2 linked regions of the Homo sapiens genome follow. The protein of the gene in region 1 interacts with the protein of each later gene in a pairwise test. Each region holds a gene or a part of one and is shown in the gene's direction. Other genes may lie near its edges.

Region 1 (5,383 bases):
GGGGATAGGTGACTCACACCTCACTAGGCCCTGGGGAGCACCACCAACATTCATGTCACTGTCCCCTTCTGCACACCCTGGCACCTCGGCAGGCCAGGATGCCGGTCTTTGCACGTTGTGCCAGGCAGCTTCGTGTTTCTGTGTTACGTCAGCAGCAAGATCATTCTTAGGGTCTCCTGGTCCACGGGGCTCATGTTTCTCGTTTTAGGTAAATTACTACGAAAGGGAAATTGCGGCACTGAAAAGGAACTTTGAGAAGGAGAGGAAGGACATGGAGCAGGCTCGCAGGCGCGAGGTCAGCGTGCTGGAGGGTCAGAAGGCCGACCTGGAGGAGCTCCACGAGAAGTCTCAGGAGGTCATCTGGGGCCTGCAGGAGCAGCTGCAGGACACAGCCCGCGGCCCCGAGCCTGAGCAGATGGGCCTGGCACCCTGCTGCACCCAGGCACTGTGTGGCCTGGCCCTGCGGCATCACAGCCACCTGCAGCAGATCAGGTCCAGCCAGCTTCTTTTGAGATTTCAAGTCTGGGGTTTCTTGCCAAGAACCAAAATTTGAAATTAGACTTAGGAAACAACTCAGAATTGCTGTGCCTCCCGACTGGGTGGTTTTCCTCTGGGCAGATGGGTGAGTGCCAAAAGAACAGGTCCTGGCATGAGGATTCTGGCTCTGAATTTAAAATATACATTGGATCATGGGCCATGAAGCTGTTCACTGTGTAGAAACAGCCCAGTGTTCTGTACCCTCTGCCTCAGCCGTGCCCGGCAGCAACATTGCCTCCATCGCTCAGAGACACCCGCTTCTCCAGGGCCAGGCAGGGTAGCATGTGGGGAGATGGAGAAAGGCCTGAAGCCCTGAACAATGGGAAAGATGGCCAGCTGGGGTTAGTGAGGTTCCCAAAAAGGCTCAAGTGTGCAAGCGAGAGAGAAGGCTTACAGAAAGCCTGTGCTGGTGTTTTATGTGTTCTGGTGTGAGGTACATGTGAAGTGACCACGTCTGTTCTTGTTGGGGGCATCTGAGGTAGGAGAGGAAGTGCCTGGTCATCGCAGACAGGCTGCTGCTCAGCTGGCACCCACTGTCCTGTGGAGAGCATTGGCCCCGGCTTAGAAGAGGACGGGCCCTCCCACCACACTGGCCAGGCCACCCCCAGCCTGACAGAAAGTCATCTTTCCGGCCGGATGCGGTGGCTCACACCTGTAATCAGCACTTTGGGAGGCCAAGGCGGGTAAATCACTTGAGCTCAGGAGTTCGAGACCAGCCTGGCCAACATGGTGAAACCCTGTCTCTACTAAAAACACAAAAAATTAGCTGAGCATGGTAGCAGGCGCCTGTAATCCCAGCTACTCGGGAAGCTGAGGCAGGAGAATCACTTGAATTCAGGAGGCGGAGGTTGCAGTGAGCCGAGATCTCGCCATTGCACTCCAGCCTGAGCCACAAAGTGAGACTCGTCTAAAAAAAAAAAAAAGTGAGACTCGTCTCAAAAAAAAAAAAAAGTCGTCTGTCCATCCTGTGCCTCCCCAGGCTTTCAGCTATTTCCCCTTAAAGCCAAGAGCGTGTGGTAAGAGATTGGGTCAGAGTCCCTGCAGACCCCAGTGGGAACAGAGGGGCAGGCACAAGCAGCCCCTCTCCTCTCAGCATCCAGGCCCTTGTGCACCTGGCCCCCACCCGGAGCTGTCTCTAGCAGCCTGCTCCTGGGGAGCTGCTGTCCCCGCTCTGCAGGGCTCCCGATCTGCCAATGCTTGGAGGTGGAGGCCCTCCAACCACTTCCTTGCTCCCCTTGCCCTGGCCAGGCATGGACCACATACCCCTTCTGGTGCTGTGGTCTTGCCAGCTCTCACTTCACTTCCACTGGACTCTCCTGCGGGCCACCAGAGGTCCCAAGGCCCAGCAGCTTCAGGGAATTAGGGGACAGTTTTGGCTCTGGGTCTCCAGCGCTATCGTGTAGAACCCACTGCAGTGTGGGCCACGTCGTATGTCTGCCCTGTCCAGTTGGGAGCCTTGAGGGCTTGGAACGTGGCCTGCACGGCCGAGGGGCTGCAACCAGGTCCTGCATGGTGGCGGCCATCTTCCATGTGAACACTCCACATGGAAAGGGTTCGTGCTTGGGCTTCCATGTGCAGAACCTCGCTCCGTGGGGCGGATCCTCGTCTGGACTCTGAAGTAGGGCCCAGGGTATAGGTTGAAGCCAGGGCTGAGGGAGGCGAGGAGGGATAAAGAAAGCCAACCACAGAGAGGAGGTCGCAGCCGTTGCAACAGCTGGGCAGACTTCAAACCCGAGAGAGGGGCTGGGGGCGGCAGGGCTGTGGTGTGTGACGGTTCTACTTCCACAGGAGAGAGGCTGAGGCGGAGCTGAGTGGAGAGCTGTCGGGGCTGGGAGCCCTGCCCGCTCGCAGAGACCTGACCTTGGAGCTGGAGGAGCCGCCGCAGGGACCCCTGCCACGCGGGAGCCAGAGGTCGGAGCAGCTGGAGCTGGAGAGGGCACTGAAGCTGCAGCCCTGTGCGAGCGAGAAGCGCGCCCAGATGTGCGTATCGTTGGCCCTCGAGGAGGAGGAGTTGGAGCTTGCCCGCGGGAAGCGAGTGGACGGGCCCTCCCTGGAAGCAGAGATGCAGGCCCTGCCGAAAGATGGGCTGGTGGCAGGAAGTGGCCAGGAGGGCACACGTGGCCTCCTACCACTGCGTCCGGGCTGTGGGGAGCGGCCACTGGCCTGGCTGGCCCCAGGTGATGGCAGAGAGTCTGAGGAGGCGGCAGGAGCCGGGCCTCGCCGCAGGCAAGCCCAGGACACAGAAGCTACGCAGAGCCCGGCCCCCGCCCCTGCCCCGGCATCCCACGGCCCCTCAGAGAGGTGGTCACGCATGCAGCCCTGTGGAGTGGATGGGGATATTGTCCCAAAGGAGCCAGAGCCTTTCGGCGCGAGCGCAGCGGGGCTGGAGCAGCCTGGAGCCCGGGAGCTGCCTCTGCTGGGAACAGAGAGAGACGCCTCGCAAACCCAGCCACGGATGTGGGAGCCACCCCTGAGGCCGGCCGCTTCGTGCAGGGGACAGGCTGAGAGGCTACAGGCCATTCAGGAAGAGCGAGCACGAAGCTGGAGCAGGGGCACCCAGGAGCAGGCCTCGGAGCAGCAGGCCCGGGCCGAGGGCGCCCTGGAGCCTGGGTGTCACAAGCACAGTGTGGAGGTTGCCAGGAGAGGGTCCTTGCCATCCCACCTCCAGCTCGCAGACCCGCAGGGTTCCTGGCAGGAGCAGCTTGCTGCCCCAGAAGAGGGGGAGACCAAAATAGCGCTGGAGAGAGAGAAGGATGACATGGAAACCAAACTTCTACATCTGGAAGACGTCGTCCGGGCTCTGGAGAAACATGTAGATTTGAGAGAGAACGACAGGTTTGCCTTCTACTCATTCTTAAAACTAAACACTTCAAACTAAAAATGCAGAACTAACCCACTGACCCCTGTTGCTAATGGTGCTATGTGGCCCTTCCTGCCGACAAGCTCGCAGCCCCTGATGGGGGCTGTGTAGCCCTTCAGCCTGAGTAGGGGTTGTGAGCCCAGCCCCGTCCCGGAATGCCACGGTCATCTGGTGCTCTACCACTGGGCAGAGGGAGGGCAGGACTGCCTTTCGGGGTCCTGAACCCACCTTCCGGGTTCAAGATATTCTTGTGCATCAGCCTCCCAAGTAGCTGGGATTACAGGCACCTGCCACCACGCCTGACTAATTTTTGTATTTTTAGTAGAGACGGGGTTTCACCATGTTAGCCAGGCTGTCCTCAAAGGTGATCTGCCCGCCTTGGCCTCACAAAGTGCTGGGATTACAGGCGTGAGCCACTGCGCCCGGCCCTCGCTTCCAAAGATTTTTCATTGTTGTTCCCAGAAGAGGCTGTATACCCATTAAACAATAACTTTTGCTAGTATTTTGTTGAGGATTTTAGCATCAATTTTTGCATCATAAGGGATTGGTCTGCAGTTTTCTTTTCTGGACTGTAGTGTCCTTGTCTGGCTTTGGTATCAAGTAATGCCTCATAGAATGAGTTTGGAAGTGTTCCCTTCTCTTCAATTCTTGGAAGAGTTTGAGAAGAGGTGGTGGAAGTTCTTTTTTAAGTGGTAGAATTCACCAGTGAAGCCATCAGCTCCTGGGCTTTGTTAGGAGGTTTTTTTGTTTTTTGTTTTTTGTTTTTTTTGAGACAGAGTCTCGCTGTGTGGCCCAGGCTGGAGTGCAGTGGTGCTGTCTGGGCTCACTGCAACCTCTGCCTCCCAGGTTCAAGCGATTCTCCTGCCTCAGCCTCCTGAGTAGCTGGGATTACAGGCGTGCACCACCAGGAATCAGGAATTTAAAACCTCGTAACAACTAGGGCACGGTGGTTCATGCCTGTAATCTCAGCACTTTGGGAGGCCAAGGTGGGTGGATCACCTGAGGTCAGGAGTTCAAGACCAGCCTGGCCAGCGTGGTGAAACCCCATCTCTACTAAAAATACAAAAATTAGTGTGGTGGCGTGCGCCTGTAATCCCAGCTACTCGGGAGGCTAAGGCAGGAGAATCGCTTGAACCCAGGAGGTGGAAGTTGCAGTGAGTTTTGAGATCGCGCCACTGCACTTCAGCCTGGGCAACAAGAGCGAAACTCTGTCTCCAAAAAAAAAAAATACAAAAATTAGCCGGGCATGGTGGCATGCGCTTGTAGTCCCAGCTACTTGGGAGGCTGAGGCAGGAGAATCGCTTGAACCTGAGAGGCAGAGGTTTCAGTGAGCCGAGATCACACCACTCACTGCACTCCAGCCTGGGTGACAGAGCAAGATTCCATCTCAAAAAAAAAAAAAGTTCCTTTAGTGAAACTCTGTTTAGAGTAAATTTCCTGTTTTTGCTTATCTGAAAAGTATCTTAAATGTTCCTTCATTTTTGTAAGACAGTATTCTTAGGAACGCACATCTAGCCATTAAATGGCCGCCTCTCCACCCTTGGAATGTCTGCTGTCCGTGTCAGAGACCCGGTTGCTGACACTGCATGGTTGGCCCTTGGTCCGTCTGTTCTTCCTTCGTGTGCATTTCCACGGACTTGGTGGCTTAACAAGGCACAAAAGTGCGATGTTTTAGTTTTAGAGGTTGGAAGAGGAAAGGGTCTCCTTGGGCTAGGAATGAGGTGCTGGCAGGGCTGCAGGGCCATCCAGAGGCCCCGAGGGGAGCTCCCTGCCTCACCTTCTCCAGTGGCCTTGACTTGAGGCGTCCTTCCATCCTGGAAGCCAGCCCTGGATGGCCGAGTCCTCCTCATGTCACCTTACTCCAACACTGACTCTTCTGCCTCCACTTTCTACCTCTAAGGACACTTGTGATTACGTTGGGTTCCTCTGGAGAATCCAGAATAATCTACAGTCAGAGAACGAGCAGCCTTCATTCCCCCTGCTGTG
Region 2 (4,685 bases), on another chromosome or scaffold:
CTAACCAAAAAACAAAAAAAAAAAAAAAAAGAAAAAAAAGAAAAAGCGTGGGTTGTTTTCCCATATACCTATCTATGCCGGTGATTTTACATTCTTGTCTTTTTCTTTTCTTTTAATATTAAAAAAAAAAAAAAAGCCCTAACCCTGTTACATTGTGTCCTTTTGAAGGTACTATTGGTCTGGGAAACAGAAGTCCGCAGGGCCTCCCTAATGTCTTTGGAGCTTAAACCCCTTGTATATTTGCCCCTTTTCAATAAACGCCCCACGCTGATAGCACAGAGGAGCCCGGCATGCACTGTATGGGAAAGCAGTCCACCTTGTTACAGTTTTAAATTTCTTGCTATCTTAGCATTCAGATACCAATGGCTTGCTAAAAGAAAAAAAGAAATGTAATGTCTTTTTATTCTCAGGTCAATCGCTCACACTTTGTTTTCAGAATCATTGTTTTATATATTATTGTTTTTTCAGTTTTTTTTTTTTTTTTTGTTCCAGAAAAGATTTTTTGTTTTGTTAACTTAAAAATGGGCAGAAAGTATTCAAGAAAAACAATGTGAACTGCTTTAGCTTTCTGGGGATTTTTAAGGATAGCTTTTCTGCTGAAGCCAATTTCAAGGGGAAAAGTTAAGCACTCCCACTTTCAAAAAAAAAAAAAAATAATAACCCACACACACAAAGAGTGTTGAGGACTTGTAGCTTAAAAAAAATAAGTTTTAAAAACTGACTTTCTGTATTTATGATAGATATGACCATTTTTGGTGTTGAGTAGATTGTTGCATTGGAAATGAACTGAAGCAGTATGGTAGATTTAAAAGGAAAAAAAAAAAAAAACCTTTTGTGTACATTTAGCTTTTTGTATGGTCCAGCTGACAGCTCCTCATTTGATGTTGTCTTGTTCATTCCTAGCAGATGATAGATTGCAATCCGTTGATTCGCCTAAGCTTTTCTCCCCTTGTCCCTTAATTCCACTTTCTCTTTCTTGTCCCTTAATTCCACTTTCTCTTTCCTTCTCCCACCTCCCGTCCTATAATCTCCCACTTAAGGTAGCTGCCTTCATTTCTTAGAGGGAGCTGCAGAATTATTTTATAAAACTAAAGAAAGAATTTCAAGGGATTCTAGGGGTCATTAGGATCCTCACAGATTATTTTTGGTTGGGGAGTTGAAACTTTTTAAAGGCATATAATTCTAGTTACCTGTGTCTGTTAGCTTTGTGCATTTATTTTTTATTTATCCTTCTTTTGGCTTTTTTTTCTTTGTACCCCTTCTTTTCCTCCTTGTTTGGTAGGAGCTTCAAATATTCTTTTTTTTTCTATACTAAAGGATTTGTTTCCATTTGTGTAATTGGCTGTGTACTTTTCTTTTCTAAAAAAAGTTTTTGGTTAGGGATTTGGTTTTTGGTTTTGTGTTTGTTTTTTCTTTCCTCTCTCAGAAAAAAAAATTTCATGCTTTAAATAAAATCCAAAGACACACCCTTTCACTGCTGATGCAGAAAAAAGGGAAAGGGTTCTTGTTACTTGAGAATTTGTTTCTGATTTAAACAAACAAGACTTAGTTTAATAAAAGAAAGAGAAAAACAAAAGATTCCCAGGTTGTTATGTGCTTCTTCTGCAAGCAGAGAGGCAAATGTTAATGACAATTCCATATACCAAAAGACACATTTTTTACTTCAAAGTTTTGTCCTTGTGTTAGGCAGTCTGAGCAGCGAGTGATCCAGAGCGCAGCCAACAAAGCAGCAGATAGCAGTGTACAGAAAGCAAAAAAGGAACTGTATGTGAGGCACTTGTTTCTGTTAATATCCATATTCCTGTTAACACACACCCTTTCTCATGTAAAAAGAAAAATAAATAAATGGTCTGAACTTTGAAAACTTTGTGCTGCTAAAACATAGATTTTGGAGACAAATAAATAGATGCTTTGCTGTTTCACTTTCATAGCTAAACATCAACAGAAACCATCTCCCCTTGCCCCCAAAGTGTGAAATCCTTCTTCCCTTCGTTTTCTTCCTTATGTTTCAAAAGGGAACTTTGAAGACTGTGAATACAGGTTCCATTGGTCACCTTTCGGGCTTCTTTCCCCAGTGCTGAAGCCACTCATCGACTTTGCAAAAGACTGGAGCATTCCAAGATCTGAAAATGGATTTTTTTTCTTTTTTTCTTTTTTAGCCGGGACTATTTTATTTTTATGAATTTGTTTTTAGTTTAATGAAATAGTAGATCCTGAAATGTTGTACATATTTCTAACTAGGCTGATGCACAGTGCAAATTCCTTTTTTAATTGTTTTTTTTAAGTAGAAATACTAAAGAAAGAATACCATCTAACTATTCATACCAGTATCCAGTTGTAGCATAAGGTGTCAAAAGCAAGTACGCAAAACATTTACTGTTTTAACAAGCTATTTCCTTTTAACAAGAAATCTTGTATTTCTTCCTGTGTTTGAGATGAACATTTTTAAATTTTAAAGTTGTACAGTTTTTTGTTTTCCATTATTTTATCTTGTTTGTAACTCTATGAAATATATATATATATATTTTTTGCCATTTAACTGTTGTATGTTACTCTGTGTCTGTACCATATAGAAAAAAAATTGTTTTTGTTTTTGGTTCTCTATGTGATATCAGTTAACAATGTAACACTAGCTTTACCTGTCAAATTCTGCTAGGTCTTCTCTGAAAACGTTGTTTTTAAAAATGATATTGCTTGGTAATAGTGCAATTTCTATCCTTTTCCCTCCCCCCTCAACTTTTAAGTTCTTTTCTTTATAATTTTGCTGCCCCCTCCCTGATGGTTTGGGTTTTTGTTTTTGTTTTTGTTTTTTTTTTTCATGGAGCTACTATGCCATCCTCCCTCTGTGAGGCAGAGTGACTGTCAGTGTTTTGTTATGCCATGCCTTGAGCTGTGGGTGTTTGGCGACAATAAGGTGGTTGAATAGATTGGCTGAGCACACTTCCACCCACCTAGTGTTCTCAGAGGGGTTATGTGATTGTTTCAACCTGGAGTGGGTTGCACCCTTAATGCTTTCCTCTGCAACTAAACCGCCCACATATATGTTCATTGAAAAAAGTAAGAATAATTCTCAGCACTAACCCAGAAGTAGCAAAGCAGTCAGTGATGGTGAACATTAGAGGTCAAACATGAGTTAGATGTTTGTGGGCTGACAGCCATCGTGGCTATGACCAGTACTATTTACAAAGCATGAATTCACTACAATGCTCAACTGTTTGTTTAGCTTTATCTCACTTGGGGAATTTATTCCTGTCTGCTGCATTGTAGGTAGCTGGGTAGGATATATTTCCACTTGCTTTTTAAATTAGTTCTTCACCTCCATTGACACTCGTTTTTTGGTTTTCTCCCTATAGTGTGGGTTGGTGCTAGACACCAGTCTGACCCACAGAATGGGAGTTATTTCATCCATCTTTCCTCCATCCTTCCAAAAACCACATATCTACACAAGGAAAAATTTAATACATCTAGGAATTTTTTTTTTAATTACAAGCTATTTAAAGAGATGAATGTGGCCAAAGTTTTACACAATTGAAAATAAAGTAAAACAGACGGCATGTGTTTAAACCTGAGTTTATCAGGCATGGCAGGAAGTTGCAGGAGAGAGAGGCAGTGACCCAAGCCAGTGCACTTGATGTTCATGGACATATATTTTTTTTAAATAATAAATTAAAACATTTTAAATAGAAGCATAAATTGAGTTGTTTGTTGGCGCTGAGATACTGCCCACTGTGAAACAAAGCTTTGACTAGTTTTTTGTTTGTTTACTTTCTTCAGGGGGGAGGGGGGCAAGTTTGGGTAGGAAAGAAAGCATAAATGAACGTGACCCTGAGGTGAAGAGGTATATGAACAGCCTTTGCAATGTACAAAAAGAAAAAAAAACAAAAAACAACAAAAAAAATAGAGCAAGTGAAACCAAAAATGATGTTCTTGGTGTTTTTCTATAATGTAGTCTTGTTAGCTTTTTTGTTACTGTAACAATGCTGATCTCGAACTGTACCAAAATACATGGAGACTAACAAACAGAACCACATGGAACTTTCAAACTGAAAAAAAAATTTGTCACAAAAACTTTGTTGTCATAGTTAAGTTGATTGTAGATGGTAATTGAATATACTCCTTTGAAAATATTTCATCAAGTATGTTTCCTGCTCATTGTGATACATTAAAAAAAAAATATGAGCAAAAGCTCCTGTCTCTGTTACCACATTTGTGCACATGCATGTGTGTGTGCAGGAGAGAGAGGCTGATGGCTGGCAAAGTATAAATGTGAATACCTTGAGGTTGTGTGTGCAGGGAGTACTTATCCCAAGGTACAAAAGGATGTACACGAGCCCTTTAGTGTTTCTAAAGACGCTTGTATTTCCCATCTCCTGGGGCTCATGAATGTCAGAAGTTTGGGCCATGATGCCGTCTGCGTTTCTTCATTGGGAGGGGTGAGTCTGATATCTTGGACGATATTTGGCCCTAGAGTGCCCTAATAGCAACTAGATTTTTAATTCAAATATTTATATGAAAGTTTTTGATGCTTGACACAATTGCAGGCAAAAAAGTTTTACTGATTGATAGCCATGAGAAAGGTAGGTTCAACTTTTTTGAAATGGGAATTGGATCTAGTGTTTATGACAGAAAGATATGAACGGTAAGTTGAACTAATGGATAACTGACTACATTTACCTGTCCTAGCA

Evidence for each region.
Region 2: the proteins of NINL (region 1) and ZFHX3 interact in a two-hybrid assay, tested with the Homo sapiens proteins (one large-scale study listed by BioGRID).

Annotation. Positions count from the first base shown.
Region 1 is NC_000020.11:25,474,032-25,479,414, reverse strand, and holds part of NINL (ninein-like protein), read left to right. Parts: intron 1-208; coding exon 209-492; intron 493-1,019; coding exon of another isoform or gene 1,020-1,220; intron 1,221-2,325; coding exon 2,326-3,372; intron 3,373-5,383. UniProt on the Homo sapiens protein: Involved in the microtubule organization in interphase cells. Overexpression induces the fragmentation of the Golgi, and causes lysosomes to disperse toward the cell periphery; it also interferes with mitotic spindle assembly.
Region 2 is NC_000016.10:72,782,385-72,787,069, reverse strand, and holds the end of ZFHX3 (zinc finger homeobox protein 3), read left to right. Parts: 3' UTR 1-4,185; downstream 4,186-4,685.